Linked DNA regions of Homo sapiens. The protein of the gene in region 2 purifies or fractionates together with the protein of the main gene of each other region. This does not show direct contact. Each region holds a gene or a part of one and is shown on either strand. Other genes may lie near its edges. The genes, in order: TUBA1C and MAP2K2.

What was found.
Region 1: the proteins of MAP2K2 (region 2) and TUBA1C purify together in Homo sapiens (affinity purification with mass spectrometry; 2 studies listed by BioGRID and IntAct, with this or other methods). This does not show direct contact.

Annotation. Positions count from the first base shown.
Region 1 is NC_000012.12:49,267,826-49,275,118, reverse strand, and holds the end of TUBA1C (tubulin alpha-1C chain), read right to left. Parts: intron 5,655-7,293; coding exon 5,432-5,654; intron 5,292-5,431; coding exon 5,143-5,291; intron 2,867-5,142; coding exon 1,892-2,866; 3' UTR 519-1,891; downstream 1-518. UniProt on the Homo sapiens protein: Tubulin is the major constituent of microtubules, a cylinder consisting of laterally associated linear protofilaments composed of alpha- and beta-tubulin heterodimers.
Region 2 is NC_000019.10:4,089,577-4,093,171, reverse strand, and holds the end of MAP2K2 (dual specificity mitogen-activated protein kinase kinase 2), read left to right. Parts: intron 1-2,463; coding exon 2,464-2,574; 3' UTR 2,575-2,851; downstream 2,852-3,595. UniProt on the Homo sapiens protein: Catalyzes the concomitant phosphorylation of a threonine and a tyrosine residue in a Thr-Glu-Tyr sequence located in MAP kinases. Activates the ERK1 and ERK2 MAP kinases.

The DNA.
Region 1 (7,293 bases), on a different chromosome or scaffold from region 2:
ATCAGAATAAAGTAAGTCACGGAGGAGAGGTGAGTATGCCTGCAACTCTGCCCCCAGGGCCCATCTGCTACCACTCATTAGGCATTCCCACTCAGGCAAGCACCCAAGCACCAAAACTGATTCCTCCCTTCTGCATGAAGCTTCACCTTTTGGTCATTGTCCTTTCCCATTGCTTAGTTCAACTGAGTACCAGGCACCAAGCTCTCCAGCTACGTATAACACTCATGCCCCTTCACCCGTCTGCCCCCAAGAACCACGGTCCTCCAACAGGTGCTTGGAAAAAAGTCCAAATCAGAGAACTCACCCCTCTCCAATCTTTCCTACACATACATATTACTCCTACTTCAAATAATCTCCATGACATACAATTGGGTCAAATGCCAATACCAGAAAAACCGGTGACTGTTATTTTGTCTGACATTTCCACTTTCTCTAAACAATAACCCCTTTAGTACGAACCATCTTTGCCACTGTAGGTCTTAGCTAAGTATGGAATAAATCAGGATTCCAAGCCCTTCTCGTGTGACTAATACTTTATTAAAGACTGACAGCAATAGTTCTGGCAGTGTGGCTGGGCACTTGAATTTTGGCTCCAGCAGTTACTGTTATCTAACCCTTTGCTACTGTACATGTGGTCACATCAGACCAACAGCATCATTTGGGAGGTTATTAAAAAACGTATCTAGGGGCCAGGTGTAGTGGCTCACTCCTGTAATCCCAGCACTTTGGGAGGCTGAGGCAGGATTGCCTGAGCCCAGGAGTTCAAGGCCAGCCTAAGCAACATGGCAAAACCCCATCTCTACCAAAAAAAAAAAAAAAAAAAAAAAAAAAAATTACAAGAATCAGCCAGGCATGGTGGAACACACCTGTAGTCCTGGCTACTTGGGAGGCTGAGGTGGGAGGATGGCTTAGCCCAGGTCAAGGTGGGGGTGAGCTATGATGGTGCCATTGCACTGCAGCCTGGGAAAGAGACCATCTCAAAGAAAAAAAATTTAAGACGTGTCTGAAGCCTCACCTCAAGCCTATAGAATTAGAACCTGCATTTTGTTTTTAAATTTGAGAGTCAGGGGTCTCCGTCACCCAGGCTGGAATGCAGTGGTGCAATCATGGCTCACTACCTCAACCTCCTTGGGCTCAGGTGGTCCTCCCACCTATAGGCAGGTGCCATCACAGCATGCAAATTTTTGTTTTGGTAGAGATGGGTTTTCACCATGTTGCCCAGGCTGGTCTCGAATTCCTGGGCTCGTGATCCACCCAACTTGGCCTCCCGAAGTGCATGAGCCACCAGGTTGACCCCAAACCTGCATTTTAATATCTACAGGTGATTCACATCCATTTTAGTTAGAGAAGCACTGGCTCAATCTGAACCCGTTTCCTCACTTACAAAATGATTCTATAACCACTTAATTCAGGCCCAAATTAAACAGATAAACCAAGAAGCTGGGCAGTGGCTCATGCCTATAATCAAAACTTTGAGAGGTTGAGGCAGGAGGATCACTTGAAGCCAGTTGAAGACCACCCTGGGCAGCATAGCAAGGCCCCATCTCTACAAGAAATAAAAATAGCTGGGCATGGTGGTGTGCACCTGCAGTCCCCAGCTACTTAGGAGGCTGAAGCAGGAGAATCACATGAGTCCAGGAGCTCGAGGCTGCAATGAGCTATGTATTATCATGCCACTGCACTCCAGCCTGGGTGACAGAGCAAGACCCTCGACTCAGGTGGTTTCATCTACCAGCCTCATACATCCAACTTTAACTGGATCAAGTATTTAAGTCAGCTCGACATTTAAAATGGAAACTTCAATTTTATTAACAATTTACGGCAATAGACATTTACAGAACAAAAATAAGACAGTTCCAAGACAAAGGAGTGTAAAAGTACAGCACACAGGTTAATACTCTTCACCCTCATCCTCTCCGTCAGCACTATCTGCTCCAACCTCCTCATAATCCTTCTCAAGGGCAGCCATGTCCTCACGGGCCTCTGAAAACTCGCCTTCCTCCATCCCCTCACCCACGTACCAGTGAACAAAGGCACGCTTGGCATACATCAGGTCAAACTTGTGGTCCAGGCGAGCCCAGGCCTCGGCAACAGCTGTGGTATTGCTCAGCATGCACACAGCTCTCTGTACCTTGGCCAGGTCTCCGCCAGGCACCACAGTGGGAGGCTGGTAATTAATGCCAACCTTGAAGCCAGTGGGGCACCAATCCACAAACTGGATGGTACGCTTGGTTTTGATGGTGGCAATGGCAGCATTGACATCTTTGGGAACCACGTCACCACGGTATAACAGGCAGCAAGCCATGTATTTACCATGGCGAGGGTCACATTTCACCATCTGGTTGGCTGGCTCAAAGCAAGCATTGGTGATCTCTGCTACAGTAAGCTGTTCGTGGTAGGCTTTCTCAGCAGAGATGACAGGGGCATATGTGGCCAGAGGGAAGTGGATGCGGGGGTAGGGCACCAGGTTGGTCTGGAATTCTGTCAGGTCAACATTCAGGGCTCCATCAAATCTCAGGGAAGCAGTGATGGAGGACACAATCTGGCTAATAAGGCGGTTAAGGTTAGTGTAGGTTGGGCGCTCGATATCGAGGTTTCTACGACAGATGTCATAGATGGCCTCATTGTCTACCATGAAGGCACAATCAGAGTGCTCCAGGGTGGTGTGGGTGGTGAGGATGGAGTTGTAGGGCTCAACTACAGCTGTGGAAACCTGGGGCGCCGGGTAAATGGAGAACTCCAGCTTGGACTTCTTGCCATAATCAACTGAGAGACGTTCCATGAGCAGCGAGGTGAACCCAGAACCAGTTCCCCCACCAAAGCTGTGGAAAACCAAGAAGCCCTGAAGACCGGTGCACTGGTCAGCCTGCAAAATAAAAAAGTTTCATTTTAGTGTTGCGAAAGTTTCATTTAGTGTTCACATTTGGTGAAACCTACAGAGGACTTCTATAAATCTATGGCTACTCCAATTGCAATTTTAAAACTCTTCTGGGCCAGGCGCAGTGGCTCACGCCTGTAATCAACACTTTGGGGGTCCAAGGTGGGAGGACCATTTGCATTTGAGCCCAGGGGTTCAAGACTGATGATCAGGCCACTGCACTCCAGCCTGGATGACAGAGCAGACCCTGTCTCCAAAAAAAAAAAAAAGCTTTTAAGTGCTAAGTGATTCAGAACAACTTTTCACAATCAAGTCCTTGAGCAGAAAAACCTTTGCTAAGACTATTTTAAGATGAACTATTGCCTTAGGCAGAGGAATCACAAGGCCTGGGCTTGCATACAGGGCTCAAGTTTTGGTAACTGGGAAGGCAGCCTCTGGTTCTCTTGCTGTGGCCACAGAACAGGGCAGTTTCTTAGTTGGAGAGGTCCTAAGGGGCAGGCCCAGGACCACCAGCCTGGTACAGTGGATGTCTTGTAAAGATTTGGCAGCTGCTTTCTGAGGTGGAACAACAGAATAGCCAAAGTTCTAACACCCTGGTACTGGAGTCAGGCTGTGTCAGGATCCGGCTGTACCAGTTCCTTACTGTATGACCACATTCATTTCTCAGTTCTTCCACTGATTAAGTGAGAATAGTAATCACCTTAGGTTGAGAATTAAGTAAGTACTCAGCATAGTGCTTGGCACAGTAAGCACAGTATTGGCCCAGTAAGCCAATATATGACACTAGGTACCAAGAAGCCCATTTATTTTGGGTAAAGTGACACAACCACAATTCCATGAGACCTCAGGTTGTTGGGGATTTCCTCCACCTAACTGGGCTATTTTGGTTAGCAAACTGCTACTTTACGAAGGAATGATTTTGACCTTCCAAATAAAGTATTCTGTTGTAAACTCTTGCTTCTCCAAGTGATGGGCCTCAGATTTGTGAACATTCTCTACTCAGCTCCCTTATAGCCTGTGGGTCCATCAACTACATGAGATCAATGCACAGGGCAGACTCTCGCCTACCAATTACACCAGTTAAGCCTCCTGTGAGCACAGTAATGACAAGGACAAATGCAATTGTTTTGGTAGGCAATAAACCTCACGTTCCAGAACCCTAAATAGCTACTAGGTTTATTTGTCCTAAAGGCAGGTCCCTGATTTTCCAAGTCAGTGCTTATAACTAAAGCTTAGGGTTTTTTTTGTTTGTTTGTTTTTTTGAGATGGAGTCTCACTCTGTCGCCCAGGCTGGAGTGCAGTGGCACGATCTCGGCTCACTGCAAGCTCCGCCTCCCGTGTTCACGCCATTCTCCTGCCTCAGCCTCCCTAGTAGCTAGGACTACAGGCGCCCACCACCACGCCCGGCTAATTTTTTTGTATTTTTAGTAGAGAGGGTTTCACCATGTTAGCCAGGATGGTCTCGATCTCCTGACCTCATGATCCGCCCACCTTGGCCTCCCAGTGCTGGGATTACAGATGTCAGCCACCGTGCCCAGCCTAAAGCTTAGTTTTTAAGCATCGGAAACATCAGTCCAGTTTTGCTGGGAAGACTACGTAAACATCTGAGAAAGTATGAAGCCATGAATGATGAGGCTATTCTATTTTAGAATGGAGCAGTCATGGCTGGGCTTAATACAATGTGATTTTCTTGACAAGTTACTCTGCCCAGACCATCATGCTTGATCTCTGGTTAATTACTTACAAGCTGCCCACATGCCTAAGGAGCAAAGAGTCATCTGATTGCCAGGCTCTTAATTAAAGTGATCCAAACAGCACACTTCATAAGGAAGCTCCCGACTCCACTTTCAGCAGTACTGGAAGTTTCCAGTATTGGCTGTTTCTTGTCAGTGTGACACTGGCTTCTTGTTCTCTGAACTTTCTGTATTGACATGAAGGAACCATCCCAGATTTTTAAAAAATGACTCTGATCAATTAGTTACATGTAGAAGTCAGCTACCTACTCACTCAGTATGACTAAGATGACCTCAAAAGGGGTGTCTCAGCTTGAAGCAAAATAGGCTAAAGAGCACTTACTTCTACCCCATAGTTGTCCCATAAATCCAAGATCATCTGGTTCAGAAATCCAATTAATTTAGTGAACAGATACATTTTAGTTGCAATGCAAATAGTCTCATTTTAGTTGCAAAGAATGATTTCTGTAGTTTGGTCTCAGAACTGCAAAAGAAACTCTCATCCCACTTTATTTAAAGTACTATACTTACCAGCTTGCGAATTCGGTCCAACACGAGGTCAATGATCTCCTTGCCAATGGTGTAGTGCCCTCGGGCATAGTTATTGGCAGCATCTTCCTTGCCTGTGATGAGTTGCTCAGGGTGGAAGAGCTGGCGGTAAGTGCCAGTGCGAACTTCATCTGGAGAACATGATGGGGGAGGAGGAGGAGGGACAAGGAGCGGGGAGGGAGAGTGGGTGAGTGACCAGCGGAGCCCCCCCAGGACAGACCTCCTGTCCCAGCACCCTGGGATCTCACTTGGGTTACTGAGGTCAACTCACCAATGACTGTGGGTTCCAAGTCTACAAACACTGCCCGGGGCACATGCTTGCCAGCACCCGTTTCACTGAAGAAGGTGTTGAAGGAATCATCTCCTCCCCCAATGGTCTTGTCACTTGGCATCTGGCCATCGGGCTGGATGCCGTGTTCCAGGCAGTAGAGCTCCCAGCAGGCATTGCCAATCTGGACACCAGCCTGGCCAACGTGGATGGAGATGCACTCACGCTGTGGGAGGAAGAAAGGAAAATGTCAGGGTATAATACATCAGATGGGACATTTAGGAATGATTCACACCTAATGACTGATTAACCTTCAAGACAGATAACTGGCTGGGCGCAGTGACTCACACCTGTAATCCCAGTACTTTGGGAGGCTGAGGCAGGTGGATCACCTGAGGTCAGGAGTTTGAGATCTGCTTGGCCAACATGGCAAAACTGCATCTCTACTAAAAATACAAAAAAAATTAGCCAGGCATGATGGCGCACACCTGTAGTCCCAGCTACTTGGGAGGCTGAGGGAGGAGAATCACTTGAACTCAGGAGGTGGAGGTTGCAGTGAGCTGAGATCACACCACTGCCCTCCAGCCTGAGTGACAAGATATTCCATCTCAAACAAAAAAAGATAACCATCTTTCAGCAGGCCACTCCTGCTCAGGGACTATAATTTCAAAAGCAAAAATCTTTGAAGACCTAATTCAGCAAAAGTGCCTTGGAAAACCAAAGATGTGTTCATGAACTACTCGGCAAGACCAGACAGTTGCTTTGTAGCCACAGTAGATATGATTCCTTAAACTAAGGCAAAATTCCCCTTTCCAGCTCTGATTCATTCTCTGAATGATTGTGTAACTACTGAGCTCATTCTGGTCCCGCTTTAATCCTATTCTTTAGGAGACAAAAGCTTCTCTCTCCCTCCTTTAAAACCAGCTTAAACCAGCAAACTATAGCCATGACTCATGAAGAAAATGCTGGATAAGCAGCAGTTAGCTGTATTTTAAAAACTGTGGTCAGAGGCAGCTTTTTAACCAAGTGGAAGAATCTAATCTATAGGAAGAACGTTTTTCCTTCACCGTCAAAACATCTCCGGAAGAGGGAAGACCATAATAATAAAGGCTAGAAATGTTACCAAGACTTTACTGATAGGTTAAGAAATTAGTTGTTTCTGGCTCACACCTGTAATCCCAGCACTTTGGGAGGCCAAGGTGAGCAGATCACTTGAGGTCAGGAGTTTGAAATCAGCCTGGCCAACATGGTGAAACTGTCTCTATTAAAAATACAAAAAAAAAAAAAATTATGGTAGAGCACAGTGGCTCATGCCTGTAATCCCAGGACTTTGGGAGACCGAGGTGGGTGGATCATCTGAGGTCAGGAGTTCAAGAACAGCCTGGCCAATATGCTGAAACCCCATCTCTACTAAAAATACAAGAATTAGCCAGGCATGGTGGTGCGCGCCTGTAGTCCCAGCTACTCGGAAGACTGAGGCATGAGAATCACTTGAACCCAAACCCAGGAGGTGGCGGTTGCAGAGATCTCGCCACTGCACTCCAGCCTGGGCAACAGAGGCAAGACTCTGTGTCTGTGTCTGTGTGTGTGTGTCTCTCTCTCATAGATATATATTTATGAGGTGGACCAAGTTAATTTAGAAAGGCCAGAGGGGCCAAAGCAGAATATGGTTAGAAATTACCAAACCCACACCTGCTAAGTAAAATAAGGGAATAAACATAGAATCTGTACACACAGACTTAACAGGAAAACAAAAAGGGTGTTTGGCATTTCATCATAAGTCAGATTAGCCACTTTGGAGACTGGCAGAGCACTAAGTTCTCAAAGGACCTGGTCTCATAAGCCAAGAGATAATAAAAACCCTA
Region 2 (3,595 bases):
ATCTCGGCTCACTGCAACCTCCGCCTCCCAGGTTCAGGGAATTCTCCTGTCTTAGCCTCCTCAGCCTCCTAAGTAGCTGGGATTACAGGTGGCTGCCACCACGCCCAGCTAATTTTTGTATTTTTAGTAGAGATGGGGTTTCCCCGTGTTGGCCAGGCTGGTCTCGAACTCCTGACCTCAGGTGATCTGCCTGCCTCAGCCTCGCAAAGTGCTGGGATTACAGGCGTGAGCCACCGTGCCCGACCTGCCCAGCTAGTTTTTTTTATAGAGACAGGGTCTTGCTAATTGTCCAGGCTGGTCTCAAACTCCTGGGCTCAAATGATTCTCCCACCTTGGCCTCCCAGAGGGCTGGGATTACAGGTGTGAGCCACTGCACCTGGCATGTGTGACTTTTTTTCTTTTTTAATGAGGCAGGCTGGGCATTGTGGTGGGCACTTGGAATCCTAGTGCCATAGGGGGATGGCTCTCTGAGGCCAGGAGTTCAAGGCCAGCCTGGGCAACATGGTGAGACTGTGCCTCTCCAAAATAAATAAATAACTAAAAAGAGAGGGGTACTAATGTTGAAATAACTTTTTTTTTCCCTCAGACGGAGTCTTGCTCTGTTGCCCAGGCTGGAGTGCAGTGGCGCAATCTCGGCTCACTGCAAACTCCATCTTCCAGGTTCAAGCGGTTCTCCTGCCTCAGCCTCTCGAGTAGCTGGGATTACAGGCTCGTGCCACCACACCCGGCTAATTTTTGTGTTTTTAGTAGAGATGGGGTTTCACCATGTTGACCAGGCCAGTCTCGAACTTGTGATCCACCCACCTAGGTCTCCCAGAGTGCTGAGATTATAAGCATGAGCCACTGGGCCTGGCTGAAATAGCCATTTTTGAACCAGCTTCTTAAAAATGCTCCCCTGTTGGGTATCCTGGACCTAGCCAAGATGTGTCCTATCAAGTTGGTTGGTTTTTCACCCATACCTACACCGACTTTTAGGAAGATAGGCACCTTGGCCTGCCTCCAGCTGCAAAAGAGGCAGCATTCAGGGGCCCAAGGTCCTGGACACCACCCTCCTGGGAACCCCAAAGGCCTCTACTCACCCACTGTGGGGTGGCCCAGCACAGCCTCTTCCCCAAGGGCACCCGCCCTCCTCCCCCAGCCCTTCCAACCAAGAGGCTTCTCATGTTGTGCTGTCCTGTACAGGAACCGCTGGTCACACGTGGCTGTTGAAGTGTGTTCAGTGGGGCCGGGCACAGTGGCTCACACCTGTAATCCCGGTACTTTGGGAGGCCGAGGTGAGCGGATCATTTGAGGACAGGATTTCGAGACCAGCCTGGGCAACATGGAAAAACCCGGTCTCAACTAAAAATACAAAAATTAGCTGGGCATGGTAGCACGCACCTGTAATCCCAGCTACTTGGGAGGCTGAGGCGGGAGAATTGCTTGAACCTGGGAGGCAGAGGTTACAGTGAGCTGAGATCATACCACTGCACTCCAGCCTGTGCGACAGAGCAAGACTGTCTCAAAAAATAAAAATTAAGGCCAGTTGCGGTGGCTCACACCTATAATCCCAGCACTTCGGGAAGCTGAGGCAGGAGGATCATTTGAGTTCAGGAGTTCGAGACCAACCTGGCCAACATGGTGAATCCCCGTCTCTACTAAAAATACAAAAATTAGCTGGGTGTGGTGGCACATGCCTGTAATCCCAGCTACTGGGGAGGGTGAGGCAGGAGAATCGCTTGAACCCGGGAGGCGGAGGTTGCAGTGAGCTAAGATCACACCACTGCACTCCAGCCTGGGCAACAAGAGTGAAACTCCATCTAAAAAAAAAAAAAATTAAAGTAAAAGTATTTAATTAATTTGTTAAACTGAAATAAAATTGAGGCTTTTGTTCTCAAGCCATGGGAGCCACAGTCCAGGGGCTCTGGAGCCTCATGTGCTGGCGAGTGGGACGGTGCCTGTACAATGCTCTTCGCGGAGTTCTGTGGAACAGCCCGTTCTTGCCTGGGCTGTCCTGCTCCGGGGGACCCTGGCAATGGCTGAGGACATTGTGGTGTCACGACTTGGGGAAGCCCCTGGCATGGAGTGGGTGGAGGCCAGGGACGCTGCTCAGTACCCTGCAGTACCCAGGATGGCCCCACGCCAGAGAATGATCCGGCCCCGGTGTCCACAGCGGCCGGAGGACCCTGGGCTTGCGCGAGCGTAGACCCTCCCCTGGGAGCGCAGGCTGCCGTGCTGGTGGTGTCCCCGCCCCAGGTGGAGTGCAGCATCCTGAGACCCCTCCCAGGCCTGGCACACGCCGCTGCCCCTTTCTGGGTTTCTTTCCCTCTCCTACCCCGAGTGCGTCTTCCTGTGGGGAAGGGAGGGTCTCCTCTGTTTTTTGCTTTCTGTCCCGTACCATCTGCCAGGGCTGGGCAGACGCTGGCCCTCCCCGTCCTACTGTGACTCCAGGCCCGGGTGCTCACGGCTCCCCTTTCCTTGCAGAACCACACCTTCATCAAGCGGTCCGAGGTGGAAGAAGTGGATTTTGCCGGCTGGTTGTGTAAAACCCTGCGGCTGAACCAGCCCGGCACACCCACGCGCACCGCCGTGTGACAGTGGCCGGGCTCCCTGCGTCCCGCTGGTGACCTGCCCACCGTCCCTGTCCATGCCCCGCCCTTCCAGCTGAGGACAGGCTGGCGCCTCCACCCACCCTCCTGCCTCACCCCTGCGGAGAGCACCGTGGCGGGGCGACAGCGCATGCAGGAACGGGGGTCTCCTCTCCTGCCCGTCCTGGCCGGGGTGCCTCTGGGGACGGGCGACGCTGCTGTGTGTGGTCTCAGAGGCTCTGCTTCCTTAGGTTACAAAACAAAACAGGGAGAGAAAAAGCAAACCGCGCCATCCTGCTTCTTTCTTCCGTTCGGCGTTGGGTGCTGGGCTTTGCTTCAGCCCAGCACGGAGAGGACATCCCTGAGCTGACCCGCATCGCCGGGCGCCGAGGCTGGAGGGCGCAGGGCCCTCCCTTAGGGAGAGCTCGCCTCTCCCTTTGGGTCAAGGGATGAAGACCTGCAGTGAGCCCCCAGGCGATGGCGGCTCTCACCAAAAGGAAGGAGAGTGAGGCTGGGGGCGGCGGCTCATGCCTGTCATTCCAGTGCTTTGGGAGCCTAAGGCGGGAGGATCGCTTGAACCCAGGGGATTGAGGCTGCAGTGAACCTCGATGGTGCCAGTGCGCTCCGGCATGGGTGACAGAGCAAGGCTACTGAAAAAAAAGAAGGGAAATGCCACCTGGTTTCCCTCTGTGTCCTCCCCGCCACCATCTCTGCCCCTGTGGAAGGCAGAGCTTCGGCCTTCCGTGATGGAAACCACTTCCTCTACACTGCTCCTGTCACGTAGCCTCCGCGGGAAGGCCGCCCCTGCCTCTTCCCCAGCGTGGCACCATCCTCTCCCTGTCCCCCCGCTTCAGGGAGTGGGGGCTCCCAGCAGTGGCAGCTGAGCTGAGACTCAGCCCCACAGAAAGGAAGCGCTGGCTTTCCAAGCTGTCGGTTTGGTTGGAAACCCCAGCAGGTCCCGAGACACGCCCTGCACTCCCCCTGCGTCCGCAGCAGGCCCAGCCCAGGGCGGGTGGTTCTGTCACCTC